Linked DNA regions of Homo sapiens: region 1 is linked to region 2. The links come from fine-mapping of genetic effects on gene expression. A gene starts in region 2. The other region holds a variant in brackets. All regions are shown on one strand. Distances are from middle to middle.

Region 1 (3,032 bases), 79 kb after region 2:
TAAATATCTACCTTTAGACTGTAAAATTCTTGGAGACAGGGAGTATATCTGTCCTGTTTACCATTGTATCTTCCATGTTTAACAAATGCCCAGCACATAGTGCTTTCCACACATCTTTGTTGAGTGGAAAAGCTACCTTAGCCTAGTTTAGGACTCCCTCTTAGATAAGCAGCTCTTTCCATTTTCAATTTTTTATTTACCATGTTCCTACTCTACCCCATCCAAACATGACCTCAAAGAGAATCTGGGCTAGGAAAGTAATCTGAATGACAATATAACCCTGGAATCAGAAAGGTCACACCCCTTTGGTGACTTAGCCTTTGTTTCCAGCCCAAACTCCTCCTTCATGGTCTTGCCTTAAAATAGATTTTCTCCTCAGGAAGCCTCTCGGTCCATCCCCTAAATAAACGAAAGCCCCTTTACCAGCACAAATTCCTCATCAAGAAAGTCAAGGTTGTAAAGAGGCATTTCCTAAAGGCTGTCAGTGTGTAGTGTTTGTGGCTTTTTTCACATTTCAATCCATTTATATTTAATGTGCTTTTTTAATCACTTACCATATCTACTCTTTGCGTGGTGTTTGACAATTCAAAAATCATTTAAGTCTGAAAACCTTAAATACACTTAAAAACTCAGTTGACATTTTGGTCTTCCAGGATCATCCCAGGTAGCTTTCTCAGAGGCCTATGCAGAGATACACCTGCTGCCCATCTGGAGGTCAGACCATGCCCATATGTTCAGCATCAGAGGTCACCACGGCATCACTCAAAGGATCACAGGCTAGCCCTTGACTGGCCTTGCAAACCCTATTATTAAAGTTACAATTTTTATACTTTTTGGAGGAAAATACTTTTCCTGTTATTTTTCTATTACAGAGCTGATAGGATTGGTGCTTATTATGTGGAGCCAGAGATTAAATAATTCTCAGGGTGACTGCTTAATGGGTATGAGGTTTTCTTTTGGGGTGATGAAAGTGTTTTGAAACTAGAGAGAAGTGATAGTTGTATAATATTGTGAATGTACTCAAAGTCACTGAATTGCACACTTCAAAATAACTTTATCTTATGTGAATTTTACCTCAATAAAAAGTAATAACAATAACTATCAGGGAACAAGAATTGATAATTATCAATAATTATCAACTGTAGAATTCCTCTCACAAGAAAAGTCCAGGAAAAGTCCAGGAATTTTAGTCAGTCATCACTGAGGTCATAGAATTCCCTAGAGATCTGGCCATCTGTGACCCTCCCCCCAACACCACCACCCTGTACCGTTTGAAGCCAGCTGGATTTAATGTACCACTTAAAGATTCTATTTTTAAAAACAACTTCTAACAGCAATTTTTTGGCACAAATAAATAGCCATAATGGAAGAAAATGAAAATAACTCCTGACTATCTCTGAATATATCCTTTTTAGGTATATTTTTCTACATAATTTCACTAATCAAAACACTTTTTTGTGCTACATTTCCGAATATATGAGAGGAATTTTGGTTTCATGAAGTTTTAGT[A/C]ATGCTAAATTAACAACATGTGTATTTTGGATGCATTTCATGAGTTATGTTATTCTTACTGCAAATGAATTCACTTATTCCATCAACAATTTTTTTTTTTTTTTTTTTTGAGACAAAGTCTTGTTCTGTTGCCCAGGGTGGAATGCAGTGGCGCAATCTCGGCTCACTGCAACCTCTGCCTTTCAGGTTCAGGTGATTCTCTGCCTCAGCCTCCTGAGTAGCTGGAATTACAGGTGTGCCACCATGCCCAGCTAATTTTTTGTATTTTTAGTAGAGATGGGGTTTCACTATATCGGCCAGGCTGGTCTCAAACTCCTAGCCTCAAGTGATCCACCCTCCTCAGCCTCCCAAAGTGCTGGGATCACAGGCATGAGCCACCGTGCCCGGACCATCAACAAATACCTTTTTGTACTTTCTGTGTGTCAGTCAGGGTATTAGGTGCTAGGAATACTGAGAACAATAAGGCATACCCCCCAACTCAAATAAGTATGGTCTTGATAATCACATTAAATATATAGATGATCATGTTTCAAATATAGAGAGAGCTGCATCAGAAGATGAAAGTGAGCTTCAAGATATCAAGACTCTGTTTGTCATGGTCACTGTTGTATCCCAACATATATAACAGGTCTGGTATACTGGAGAAACTCAGCAAATTTTTTTTATAAATGGATGAAGCTTTCCACAATTATATACCACCTTCATTGTTTTACTTAGTTCTTATTGCTGTGGTTTGAATAGCCCCTCCAAAATTCATGTTGAAACTTAATCCGCAATGTGGCAGTATTGAGAGGTGGGGTGGAGCCCTTAAGAAGTGATTGGATCATGAAGGTTCTGCCCTCATGAGTGGTTTAATTTATTCATGGATTAATGTGTTATCATGAAAGGAGAACCAGTGGCTTTATAAGACGAGAAAAAGATCTGAGCTAGCATGTTAGTACACTCAGCTTCCTCACCAGGTGATAACCTCCTTCGGGACCCTTCAGAGAGTTCCCACTAGCAACAAGACTCTCACTGGATATGGCCTTTCAACCTGGGATTTCTCAGCCTCTAGAATTGTAAGAAATTAATATATTCTTATAAATTACCCAGTTTCAGGTATTCTGTTATAGGCAACAGAAAATGGGACTAAAGACCATACATTGTCCTGCATTGACTCAAACCAAAAATGCCCAGTTTATTGGCATAATCTGAAAGGGGTAATGAGTGCATTTTTTCTTACCCTCCTCAGTGTACAAATGTTATTTCGTGTTAGATTTTCAGATTTTCTGATTTTAATTCATTTAGCTTGCTCACATAATGATCAAAGGGCCACAGAAAAACCCTTATAGAAAAAGGCATCCATCCTCCTCTGCAGCCTCGTTGGTCCCCTCAGTCACCAACTCTTCTCTTTTCCCCAGTGATTCAGACTCCCACATTTACCTCTTCTCCTGCCCGACCACTTGGACTTAGTGGTTTGGTTTGAGGCTATTTGCACTGATTTGGGCCATAATGCCCCCACTCAAGGCAACTTTTAGTATCTC
Region 2 (2,500 bases):
ACTGAATATTGTTATTACAAAACCAGTACGTTTCTAACAGTTCTGCCTTTCTATTCTTGAATAAGACATTTACTCAATCAGAACATAAGCATCTCTTACCACATATAAGGTATAACATGAATTTGAAAGTCTAATAACAAGTGACATTTCTGAGCTTAGCGCTAAAGGCAAGCATAGCGTTCGATCTGTTTCGATAATAACACAGGCAGTCGAATTCTCTTACTTTAATCTACTACACAAAATTTAAAGAAGAGTTAATAAAGCGATGTAGAACTCAGTAGGGCATTTTTATTCCCAGGGTCAAATGATGGCCATTACTGACACAACTTTTTTTTTCCAAAAGTACACCTACATTTATCAGGAAGCATAATAAGTGTTTGTGAACTTTACTAGCTGTGTGTTCATCAAGATGGCTGAAGCTTTCACACACTGGAGTCTACAAGGAAAGAGTTTACTTGCATACCAGAAGGCAAATCTCATGCTACAAACTGGTGTCAAAGGTTTATGCCAGCACCAATTTCAGTGAGTACACCGTACACACATGCATTCATATACACGTTACTGATAATCTCAGTTGAGGCATTCCCTAACCCTTTTTAAATACACATGTGGAATTTAGAGAGCAGTTTTCAAACTTCAAAGGAACCTTAATCATCTTTTCATAGTTCAAAAAAGGAAAAAATAAACACAGCAATGCAGCAAAGTCATTTCTCCAGCTGAAATGACCTCCAGCTTCTTCGGGCTACTCCCAGTTTCGCAATAAGTGAATCTGAGACGCAAACCACGTACACACAAACGAAGTAGAAGCGGAGAACACTAAAGCTTCCCCAACAGTCCCGGCAAAACCCACCCGGCTTTTCTCAGTCCTCCCGCTTCCCCAGCCCTTCCCGTCTGCGTGCACGCACAGGTACCTTGACACAGACCAGGAAAAGAGAACAAGGATTAATTAGCAGCCAAAAATCCTGTTTTATCACTTACAGCCACTATCCAGGAAAGCGACGGTACTACTAACCTGATTTCAGGGAGGCAAAACTAAACCCAGCAGGGTACAGGAGCATAAATTATACGCGTCTGGAACGTCAACCCAGCAGCTCAAGGCAGCTCAGATGACAATTCAACGAAAAGGGTTTCGCAAATGTTATCTCAAATGAACATTTCCACTTCCAAACCACCCACCAACCTCTCCACTGTCAGTACCCAAATTTGCCTGAAGCAACTCGGGATATAAGCAGCAGCATTTCTTACCTTGTACAAATCTCGACATTTTAGGGGCTTAGTAAAATACTCCGGCTTTTTTTTTTTTTTTCTAGAGGAGTCACGCTACAGGGCAGGTCTCTCTTCCTCTCCTGCTTTAACAACCGATGTATTCTTTCTCCTCCTATATTTAACTACTTAAGGGAGTATTTATTCAAAGCGATTAAAACTGGCTCAAGAAAAAAGAAAAGAAAGAAAGAAACTCCTTCCCCAATTCCAAAAGACGGAAACTTGGTGCGACTGAGTCGGTTTGGGAACTCCTGAGCTCCGGACACAAATGAGGGCCAGCTGGAGACTCCCGGAAAAGGTAAAACCACACGAACTTAAATTTCTTCAATGAAAGAGGCGGACCTACAGCGGCTATTTCACCGCCCCCAAGTCCCCACGCCCTCCAGGGCTGTACTGCAGGAGGCACTGGCAGGCCGCGCCCCTAGCTGCCCCCTCCCCGCGCCGCCGTCCAGGCCCCAAACGCCTCCCCCGAAAACCCCGGTTAACAGCGGCTCCCGCCCAAGCAGGGGTCGGGGAGGCGGGCGAGGCCGGCCAGCGGGGGCAGTGCAACCATTTTCACCAGCCATAAACATCCTGGGACTAGGAGGCGCTACCAATTCCACGCTCTGGCTGGCCGACCGGTCGGGGCCTCAGCTCCCCGCCTTCCCGCCTCGAGCAGTGAAACCCGGCCGCAGCTTTTTCTCGGTAGGGGCCGAAGGCTACGCTGCCCCTCCCCCGCAGCGGACACTAAGGGGTCACCGGCTAGAGGCAGACCCGTGCACCGGCGCGGGAGTCCCAAGGGAGGGCACCGACCCTTCCCGTACATATTCTCGCCCCGCCTGCCCTGCGCTCCTCAGAAGCCCAAATTCCGCCTCCGAGACCACACAGCGGGCCAGCGAGAGCGGGAAACACACTCATCCAGGGGGTCGCCGGAAGCCCAACCCCGCCCCTCCTCAAGCCGCCAGCGAGACCCACCTTCCTCTTCCTTTAGCAGCTGGGAAATTGGGGGCGTTTATGGCGCCCCGGGAAGAAGGCTCGCAGGCTGAAAGTCACCTCTGAGGCGCCCTTCTCTCTCTCTCTCTTCCCTCACACATGCACACCTTGAGCCCCTCCCTAACGGTCGCAGCCCAGCTGCTAACCCCCCCTTGTCCACCCGTCAGCCGGCTCCCGACACCCACAGCCCCTACTTTCTCCTAAACACCTCCCCTCCCCCTCCATTCGGAGCAGCCCCTTCAATGCGGAAATGTCCCTGCCGCAC

Which allele goes with the higher level. Positions count from the first base shown, and alleles are read on the strand shown. Sizes are in standard deviations (SD) of each study's normalised expression.
For the expression in fibroblasts of the gene that starts at base 1,554 in region 2, allele A in region 1 goes with a lower level than allele C (small effect, 0.18 SD a copy in GTEx).

What was found. PIP is the estimated chance that this variant, and not a neighbour inherited with it, causes the effect.
Region 1: its variant is fine-mapped to the expression of UGP2 in fibroblasts (GTEx, PIP 0.98).

Annotation. Positions count from the first base shown.
Region 1 is chr2:63,762,088-63,765,119 of GRCh38, reverse strand. It overlaps a transcript of WDPCP not described here. Among named protein-coding and RNA genes, the nearest start is that of UGP2, 78 kb to the left of the region's middle. The variant A/C (reference allele first, on the strand shown) is at 1,510.
Region 2 is chr2:63,840,950-63,843,449 of GRCh38, reverse strand. It overlaps UGP2 (UDP-glucose pyrophosphorylase 2), which reads right to left and starts at 1,554. Exons shown (of 10, transcript NM_006759.4): 1 at 1,246-1,554. The coding sequence starts at 1,264. RefSeq lists enhancers at 1,448-1,497, 2,368-2,500 and a silencer at 1,598-1,907.